Homo sapiens: one gene and its partners. The protein of the gene in region 2 interacts with the protein of the main gene of each other region in a pairwise test. Each region holds a gene or a part of one and is shown on either strand. Other genes may lie near its edges. The genes, in order: CRABP1, TRA2A and C11orf58.

Region 1 (2,843 bases), on a different chromosome or scaffold from region 2:
GTGGTTGGAAATGCGGCGATTTCTTCTCATGTCATGAAGCTATTTGTTAGCTGGGGAGAGCTGTCAGCTAGTGAGAATAGTTTCTCCAGGGTACAGCGTTCAATACCCAAATGCTGGCAGCCATTTGACAATCCATGGCTGTAGAACTCAAAGAATTATGGAAAATTAACATGGTTCTGAGGCGTCCAGACATCTGCGAGGTAGACTTACGGTGGGAAAGTCAAGCCCCACACCCCCTAGCATGCAGAATCACCTGCATTTCTTCCCAATAGAGAAGAGGCTAGGACAAAGGTGTCCAGGAGTGGGTATAACTGCCAGTCTGGTCAGGAGATCCCTAGCATGAAAAGCTAGTGGCTGGGTGCAGTGGCTCACGCTTGTAATCCCAACACTTTGGGAGGCTGAGGCAGGTGGATCACTTGAAGTCAGGAGTTCGAGACCAGCCTGGCCAACAAGGTAAAACCCCATCTCTACTAAAAATACCCAAAAATTAGCTGGGCATGGTGGTGTATGCCTGTAATCCCAGCTACTTGGGAGGCTGAGGCAGGAGAATCACTTGAACCTGGGAGGCAGAGGTTGCAGTGAGCTGACATCACACCATTGCACTCCAGCCTGGGTGACAGAGTAAGGCCGTCTCAAAAAGAAAAGAAGCTAGTGATGGGCATCTGCTTCCTCAGTCACTAAGGACTTGAACTATTTCCCTGAAGCACACGTGTCAGGATAATGTTTTAGCATATGTTCTCTGAGAGCATCTCGTGACCAACTAAGATGGCAGGGTAAGAATATAAAGATCCTAGGATAGCTAAATGCCTCGTTTAGTGGTTTTAACATCTCTGTAATTTCAGGCCACTTTAAGAATCTGAAAGATAAGGACCTTCTGGCACATAAATGTACATTTGCAAACAAACATACTCACATCAGGTTTACAGACTGGGGAATTTCTGTTTCTTGGTTTTTGTTTTTGTTTTTTTTTTTTTTAACATACATATTGCTTTCCCTGTTCTAACTGCCTGTGAGAGGTCCAGGAGAGCAGGCCTGTGAGTAATTGCTAGTTTTGGGGGAAAGTTGAGACAGTTTACTTGTGGGCAATATCATTTCAGGGGCCAGCAGAAAAATGTCCTCCTCCATCTGTGCAATGATTCGTGTCCTCCCTACAGCAAACAAACTAAGAGCCATAGAATTTTAGCTGGAAGAGCCTTTGCGATGATCATCTTGTCAACTCCACCCCTCTCCTCAACACCAGCCCCTGCCTGCCCCTTTCCCAAACAGGCCACGAGAGGAAAACATTTGCCCCCAAGCTTAGCCAGCTGTGAGCTGCAGGGGCTAGGTTTGGATGCCAATGCTGTGCTTTTGCAGCTGAGACCAATTTTCTAGCTTGCAGGTGACTTGAGTATTACATATACAGCATCTCAGCCTGTCTCCCAGGTTAGATGACTGCTTCCTGGAAAGCAGTTCTATTCCTTCTCCAAAGCAAGGAACAGAACTGGCTGGTGAGTGCTGGGCCTCATGACCCCAGCTGCCTGAGCTTCTTTCTATCTTGAAGTCATTTGAAAAGAGACAGAGCCACTTCAGAAATGTCCATTGTGACATTCTTTCCCTTTCAGTTTAATTTTAAAACCAAAACTCCTGGCATTTCTTATGTCAGCATTTTACAGGTTCCATAAGCAAAGGAAAATGGTATATAACATAATTCTATACTCTGGTTACCTCTTTACCAATAGCGCTTAAGGGGGAAAAAATATCCCTTAATGCTTAGCCTGAGCACACACACAGGAAATTGAATGTCTGTTACAAAGAGTTTTTAACAGGGCAATAAGTGGCCTTATTAGTGATATGCTTTAAACATTTTTGCACAGGCATCTGCACTGATTGGTTTTCCTTTTCTTCTTCTCTGCAGACGTTTGGCGCCGATGACGTGGTCTGCACCAGAATTTATGTCCGAGAGTGAAGGCAGCTGGCTTGCTCCTACTTTCAGGAAGGGATGCAGGCTCCCCTGAGGAATATGTCATAGTTCTGAGCTGCCAGTGGACCGCCCTTTTCCCCTACCAATATTAGGTGATCCCGTTTTCCCCATGACAATGTTGTAGTGTCCCCCACCCCCACCCCCCAGGCCTTGGTGCCTCTTGTATCCCTAGTGCTCCATAGTTTGGCATTTGCACGGTTTCGAAGTCATTAAACTGGTTAGACGTGTCTCAACCTTTTCCCTTTTTTGGTTTGCCTCTTCAGTTTCAACGTGGGAGTTATTGTGTACCTACTGTCCTTAGCACTGTGTTGGTCTGTGCGGTACTCTCAGCTTTGGCCTGCTGGCCTCGGTGTGGGGCTTTGAGCATACGTCAGCAGTTGCAAGCTGGGCTCCCGCAGACTGGCTGGATCCAGACTGCAGATCCAGGTGTGATTGCACCTCCCAGTGTGGCTGTTCAATTGAATTACTTGGTATCAGTAGTTCCCAGCAGGAAACGGCACATTTAAAAGGGGTTAACAGGGAAGAGCTCATAATGAAGGGACTGTTTATACTGGCAGGATGAATAGAGCCAGCAAAGGATGGGGAGGCACCCAAAGACAAGCAGTGGAGGGATTCACCCCCAGGCCTGAAGATAGAAGGGAAAGAGGGGTCACCAGACCATGAGAGCTATAACCTAGGAGAGGAGCCACTGCCAAAACCATGGCCCCAGTGTTTATGGGGTCAGGGGAGACTTGGCTTGGAACAAGGGGGATAAACATCCTAATCTCCCACCTTTCAGTCTCTACCTATTTTGTCCATTGGCCAAATCCAATAGGAATGGAGAGGGCAGGGAAGAGGGTGCTGTTTACAAGGGTCACCCTCCCAGGATGTGGCCAGGGGGAGA
Region 2 (3,656 bases):
TGATTTAGAAAATTGCATTTTAAAGAATTTGAAGCTCAATACTTTTAGTTTTGTTAGACCTTCTGTCTTTTAAATTAATATATATATATTTGTATATATCTGGAAGTTTTATTAGACCTTAATAATCAGGGTGTTTTTCTTTTCTTTTCTTTTCTTTTTTTTTTTTTTTTTTTTTTTTTTTTTTTTTTTTTTTTGAGATGGAGTCTCGCTCTGTCGCCCAGGCTGGAGTGCAGTGGCGCGATCTCAGCTCACTGCAAGCTCTACCTCCCGGGTTCATGCCATTCTCCTGCCTCAGCCTCCCGAGTAGCTGGGACTACAGACGCCCGCCACCATGTCCAGCTAATTTTTTGTATTTTTAGTAGAGGCAGGGTTTCACTGTGTTAGCCAGGATGATCTCAATCTCCTGACCTCGTGATCCACCCGCCTCAGCCTCCCAAGGTGTTGGAATTACAGGTGTGAGCCACCGCGCCTGGCCAAATAAGGCTATCTTTTAAAAACAGTAAGTTCTTGGCATCTGGTGGGTAGAAGCCAGGAACACTGCTAAATAACCATACAGTACACAAGCTGGCACCCCATAACATAGAATCAGTCTCAAAATGTCAATAGTGCTAAGGTTGAGAAACCCCGGATAACTCTAACAAACTAGTACTTTAGTTTTTAAGTCATTTATGTCACAGGCAGTTTAATGCCTTAATTTGTCAGTCTTATGATTTTTTTTTTTACTGTTACGTATTTGTGATTTATATATTCCTTTTCTCAATTAAGAGATACATGTTATCAATTTAGAAATACTAGGATATCTGAGCTGAAGTAAAAGTTGCAAAATGCAAGCCAGAACAGTGTAATTTTTTTATTATTAATATTTTTTAATGTGAAACGTGTTTATCTCTTGATTCCACCTGTCCCCTTCCACTTCTGGATAAAACTAAAATGGCAGGCCGGGCACAGTGGCTCGCACCTTGTAATCCCAGCACTTCGGGAGGCTGAGGCGGGCAGATCACCTGAGGTCAGGAGTTCAAGACCAGCCTGGCCAACAGGGTGAAACCCCATCTGCTAAAATACAAAAATTAGCCGGGCATTGTGGCAAGCGCCTGTAACCCCAAGCTACTCGGGAGGCTGAGGCAGGAGAATTGCTTGAACCTAGGAGGCGGAGGTTGCAGTGAGCTAAGTTTGTGCCACTTCACTCCAGCCTGGGCAACAGAGTGAGACTCCACTTCATCTCAAAAAGAAAAGAAAAAAAAGCTTAACTGGCAACTTTAAAGACAGGAGCAGTTACTTAGTGGCAGGATTAGAAGTTCCTTTTAGTTCACTAGGTGACAATATGTTACTTAAGGAGCGGGGTGACGAGGCTTGTCAGCTAAATCACAGTTTCTCTTTTCAGTTGCCCAGGCTGAATTCTCAGCTAACACAGGCATGTTGTATGGTTTCTTCTGTATGGCTGAGACTGTCTCCAGTCTTTAGGGACAGGCAATCTGAAGTGATTTGATTTTTTTCTTTTTTTGTTGTTTGTTTGTTGTTTCTTTGTTTGTTTGGAGATGAGGTCTTGCTCTTTGCCCTGTCGCCTAGGCTGGAGTGTGGTGGCACGATCTCAGCTCACTGCAACTTCCGCCTCCCAGGCTCAAGTGATCTTCCCACCTTAGCCTCCCGAGTAGCTGGGACAACAGGTGCGCACCACCATGCCCGGCTAATTTTTGTATTTTTTGGTAGAGACGGGGTTTTGCCCCATTGCCCAGGCTAGCCTCAAACTCTGGACCTCAAGTGATTTGGCCTCCCCAAAGTGCCAGGATTACAGGCATGAGCCACTTCACTTGGCTAAAGTGATTTTTTTTTTTTGAGACGGAGTCTTGCTCTGTTGCCAGGCTGGAGGGCAGTGGCACAATCTCGGCTCACTGCAACCTCTGCCTCCCGGGTTCAAGCAATTCTGCCTCTGCCTCCCGAGTAGCTAGGACTATAGGTGCATGCCACCACACCCAGCTAATTTTTGTATTTTTAGTAGAGATGGGGTTTCACCATGTTGGCCAGGATGGTCTTGATCTCTTGATACCTCATGATCCCCCCATCTTGGCCTCCCAAAGTGCTGGGAGTACAGGTGTGAGCCATCGCGCCCAGCCTAAAGTGATTTTTAAAATCTTTTTAAAATTTGTATTCCTTTTTGACTAACTTCTCCCTGATTCTGAAAATTTCACTGAAGTTTCAAAGTTATTAGTGTGCATATGGTGAAGATAATAATATAAGCTCCTCACCCTGTTTTAGTAAGAAGTACTTAGAGATTTTGTGTGTGTTTTTTTGGGGGGTGCTTAGGATGGGGTGCAGGGAGATCAACTTAGAGAATTTTGATTTTTGGAACTTCAAATGGAAGATGTGTTAAATTTGTTGCAGCTTTGCTTTTGCAGACATTTATGTGATGTAAAGTTCTTTTTAAAAATTGGACCGGGTGTGGTGGCTCATGCCTCTAATCCCAGCACTTTGGCAAGAGGATTTACTTGAGCCCAGGAGTTTGAGACCAGCCTGGGGAAACATAGGGAGACTTGGTCTCTACAAATATATATATGTGTGTGAGAGAATAGGAAAAAAAAATTGTCCCAGAAACAAATAATACTCTCAGAGTTCTTTTCAAAGAGACCAAAGAGACAACTCTTATCTTCAAGAATTAGGCTGTGCAAGGCGGCTCATGCTATTTGGGAGGCTGAGGTGGGAAGGCCACTTGAGGCCACGAGTTAAGAGACCAGCCTGGGCAACAGATCTTGTCTCTACAAAAATAAATGCATGCAGGCCAGGCGTGGTGGCTTACGCCTGTAATCCCAGCACTTTGGGAGGCCAAGGCAGGAGGATCACAAGGTCAAGAGATCGAGACCATCCTGGCCAACATGGTGAAACCCCATCTCTACTAAAAATACAAAAAATTAGCTGGGCATGGTGGCGCATGCCTGTAGTCCCAGCTACTTGGGAGGCTGAGGCAGGAGAATCACTTGAACCTGGGAGGCAGAGGCTGCAGTGAACCGAGGTCACGCCATTGCACTCCAGCCTGTGCAACAAGAGCGAAACTTGGTCTCATAAATAAATAATAAAATGCATTCCATTGAATGGAATACTGTTTAGACCCCTTCTCTACCAAGAATTTTTGTTTTAATTAGCCGAGCATGGTGGCACAAACCTGTGGTCCTAGCTACTTAGGAGACTAAGGCTGGAGGATTGCATAAGCCAAGAAGTTTGAGGCCACAGTGAACTATGATCCACTGCCAGCCTGGGCAATGGAGTGAGACCTCCTTTTTTTTTTTTTTTTTTTTTTAATGACCTTTAGTTTATGGGACACTCTTACGGAGAAATATTTGTGGATACATAAAAATTGTGTAGTTTTTATTAGTTTATTATACTTTTATTAGTTCAGTCTCAATAAAAGGTTGAAAGGCATTACGATAAATTTGTTCTTGTCTGTTTATATCATTTCTTCTTGGCTGCTCACTGAGTCTTAATCAGTGTACTAGACTGCAAACTAAAGAATAAGATTGGGGGCAGGTTATAAAAAGAACATGTATAAAGCTTAGCAAACCCTTTTTAATGTTCTGAAGTCAGTCTTTGTAAGTGAAATCGCTGGAGACTAGAAAGTATGAAATGGCAGTCTACCTGGGCAACCTACAAAAAATTTAGCTTGAAAA
Region 3 (3,656 bases), on a different chromosome or scaffold from region 2:
GGAGGGGGGTGGTGGTGGTTTTGAGATGATTCAAGTGTATTACATTTATTGTGTACTTTATTATTATCACATCGTAATATATAATGAAATAATTGTACAACTCACCATAATGTAGAAGCAGTGGGAGCCCTGAGCTTGTTTTCCCTGCAACTAGACGGTCCCATCTAGGGGTGATGGGAGACAGTGACACCCTAAGTGTGTTGCTTATGTCCAGTCTACTCTGTAATCTTGTTTGGCTGCTGTCACTACAGAAAACCCTGTTTCACAAAGACAGGAGGTTGGAAATGGAAGCAGGCTTTCCAGTGCTTTCGTGGCAATCTCAGGATGTTCCACTTTGTCTTTAATCCAGAATGTATGGAGATGTGAAGTTGTCTCAAACATACTTTTAAGGGCAACATCATTTGTGATCTTAAGCAGCTGATCCTCTTCTAGCATGAACAAAGTCGATTCACCTGGCTTATTCACAAATGGGTTGTGAATCCATTCCTTCCCAGTTCGGGGCTCTTTCGTGGCTGGAAAATAATACTCAAACTCTTTGAAGGCTGAGATAGGTGATCATGTGCCAGCTGGGAGAAAAAAGGTCCTGGCTCAGTCTCTTTTAAAATCTCTGCTAATGTTTGAAACATGTCAAAAAATCCCAATGTTCACTTGTGGCCCCCATAATACTAGTCTGGCTTTGAATGCAGCCACTCTATCTGCCAACTTGAACACAGTTTTGTTCTCCCCTGAGGTGACAGATTGAATATGTCACACAAGTAAGCAAGTTTTTTTTTTTTTTTCGAGGGAGTCTCGCTCTCTTGCCCAGGCTGGAGTGCAGTGGCATGATCTCGGCTCATTGCAACCTCTGCCTTCCAGGCTCAAGTGATTCTCGTGCCTCAGCCTCCCGAGTAGCCGGGATTATAGGCATGTGCCACCATGCCTAGCTAATTTTTGTATTTTTTAGTAAAGACGAGGTTTCTCCCCTTTGGCCAGACTGGTCTCAAACTCCTGGCCTTGAGTGATCTGCCTGCCTTGGCCTCCCAAAAGTGCTGTAATTACAGGCGTGACCCACCATGCCTGGCCAAGTAAGCAATTTTGTGACCCAATTCTGTGTCAACGAAATGTGCTGCCAGTGGTGACTTTTTCTAAAATGAAATCTCTGGAGCAGCTATTGTAACTGAAAAACAGTGGCCAGTGATCTACCTTTAGGAAGCCGTCTCTCTTCTGTGTATAAGAGAAGACGTGTGCTCTGTGTCTATCTTCTCACAGAGCTACATGAACAGATGTGAATTAAGGGCATGTACTTTAATGTGGTTGAAAATTTTAAGCACATCCTACAAAATGGTAAGTTCAGGTGGCATTTTCCAACTAGCCAGCATCTCTACAGATGACACAGTACACAGACTCACATTCAGAAGCAAGCTCTTTGACCTGAGTAGTGAAAACAGAAAGCCGTCCAGTCATGGCAGCTGCTCCATCCCTGCATATATCGATACAAAATGACCAATTCAGTTTTCCTGATATGTATTTAAAGACTTGAATAGTTCTGCAGCTGTGGTGTTGGTTGAAAGCAAAAGTGCACATAATATATCCTCATGCACATCCTCCTGAAAAATGTATCACACAAAAACAAGCATTGTTGCCTTGCTGTCAACACTGGTAGACTCATTAACCTGGATTGGGTACCACAGTGACTCATTAATTCTAACAACTGTGCCTCATATCCTCTATTAATTCATCTAGCTATGGTGCTAGCCAGAAGAGGAACATGTGCCACCTTTTGAACTGCAGGCTCTCCTAAGAGTTCACAACAGATGTCCTTAGCAGCAGGCAGGATCAACTCTTCACCAGTAGTAAAGGCCTTCTTAGCTTTAGCAATGTGATTAGCCACTAAGAATGATGCTCTCACTGCAGACACATTTGATGAAGTGGTGGCCTTCAATAATTACTTCTGTTCTTTGCGTTCACGATTTTTTCTTTTGAAAAACTCCAAAGGCTTGTCTTTTAATGCAGGGTGTTTGGTCTCCATGTGGTGAAGCACTTTTAAAGGTTTCATGGCTTTTCTGGATAGCTGGTCATCACATATTAGACAAAGCAGGTTTGGAGAATGTGAATCACCTATTGCAATGAACCTACAATTTAAGTAGGACTCTTGATATTTTCTTTTAAATGCCACTTTCTCTTTGTTGGCAGTATTAGAGTCTTCTGCTGTCTCATCATTGGGTCTTTCCCCCTTTTCAAAGAAGCTCTCCAAGGACGTTTGTTTTTTTACTCATTTTGGCTAGGGTTAGCTTGTGGGCTTACCAAAACTGTGACTGAGACAAATGCACAGTGCAGGAAAGAGACATGGATGGAAGTGGTAAATAAGTAATGGGCAGGCCACATGCAGATTAAATGTCAGATTCTGACTTAAAACCTGCCACTAGATGCAGCTTGTTACTTGCCACTCACTGAGAGGGTTTTGATATGAGTCTGCAAGCAGTTGATTGATTACGGTCTCTGTGCAGTCAAGCCTCTCTGCTAATGTTAATCTGTTTTTGCAGCCACTCCCCATTACCACCTCAGCTCCAATTCAGATCATCAGGCATTAGATTCTCATAAGGAGGCACAACCTAGATCCCTGGCTTGCACAGTTCACAATAGGGTTCATGCTCCTATGAGAATTTAATGCTGCCAATGATCTGATAGGATGCGGAGCTCAGGTGGCCATACAAGCCATTGGGAGCAGCTGTAAATACTGATAAAGCTTCTCTGGCTTGCGTGCCACTCACCTCCTGCTATGTGGTCCAGTTTCTAACAGGCCAGGGATGGGTACCGGGGATTGGGAGCTCCTGCTTTAAAGCTCTCAGTTTTAAAAGAGTAAATGTGGCAGTTGAAATATTTTTCCATTCTGCAAAGTTCAGGAATTGTTTTTTGCCTTATGTAGCAATACAAATCAATTTGAAGTAATTGTTTAACACTAGAAAAATAAAAGATCTATGAATTTCTAAAATGTGCTACATATGCTGTGTTAGCATAATTTAAATAACTTAAAGTTTTGTTAAACATAATCTAGGTCAATGTGTCTTTTATTAATATGTGCCTTTTATTACTAATGTCCAAGATTAGGGTCAGTTTTAAATAGGCAAAAATTTCACTTTTCAGCACACCAAATACCCAAATTCATTTTCAGTTTTTATTTAAAAATGTTCTTCCCTAAAATTATTTTAAAAGCTTATTTCTTTAGGCCCTGCAACTAGTTTATATTCTTCAAAGATTTTAAAACAAAATTTAGTGAATACACAAAACCAAATGCCAACTATGACATTATATGCTAATATACAAAGAACAAAAATTCTGTACATACCAGAGTTAACAAGTTGAGGCATAAAACCTCACTACAATTAAAATATATGTTCTGAATCAGTAAAAATGGAGACAGAAAAAGGTTAGTTTCTTGGTTAGAATATCATAATGACATATACTCTCTCATCTTTTAAAAATCAAAGTACATGATAATTGATACTTTATATATGTAACATGTTTACCTATTATACATTTCTAATTTTTTTTTTTGGAGACAGAGTTGCACTCTGTCACTCAGGCTGGAGTGCAATGGTGCTATCTTGGCTCACTGCAACCTCCGCCTCTCTGGTTCAGGCAATTATCGTGCCTCAGCCTCCCAAGCAGCTGGGATT

What was found.
Region 1: the proteins of TRA2A (region 2) and CRABP1 interact in a two-hybrid assay, tested with the Homo sapiens proteins (one large-scale study listed by BioGRID and IntAct).
Region 3: the proteins of TRA2A (region 2) and C11orf58 interact in a two-hybrid assay, tested with the Homo sapiens proteins (one large-scale study listed by BioGRID and IntAct).

The regions. Positions count from the first base shown.
Region 1 is NC_000015.10:78,346,033-78,348,875, forward strand, and holds the end of CRABP1 (cellular retinoic acid-binding protein 1), read left to right. Parts: intron 1-1,894; coding exon 1,895-1,945; 3' UTR 1,946-2,193; downstream 2,194-2,843. UniProt on the Homo sapiens protein: Cytosolic CRABPs may regulate the access of retinoic acid to the nuclear retinoic acid receptors.
Region 2 is NC_000007.14:23,507,909-23,511,564, reverse strand, and holds part of TRA2A (transformer-2 protein homolog alpha), read left to right. Parts: intron 1-3,656. UniProt on the Homo sapiens protein: Sequence-specific RNA-binding protein which participates in the control of pre-mRNA splicing.
Region 3 is NC_000011.10:16,748,624-16,752,279, reverse strand, and holds part of C11orf58 (small acidic protein), read right to left. Parts: intron 1-3,656.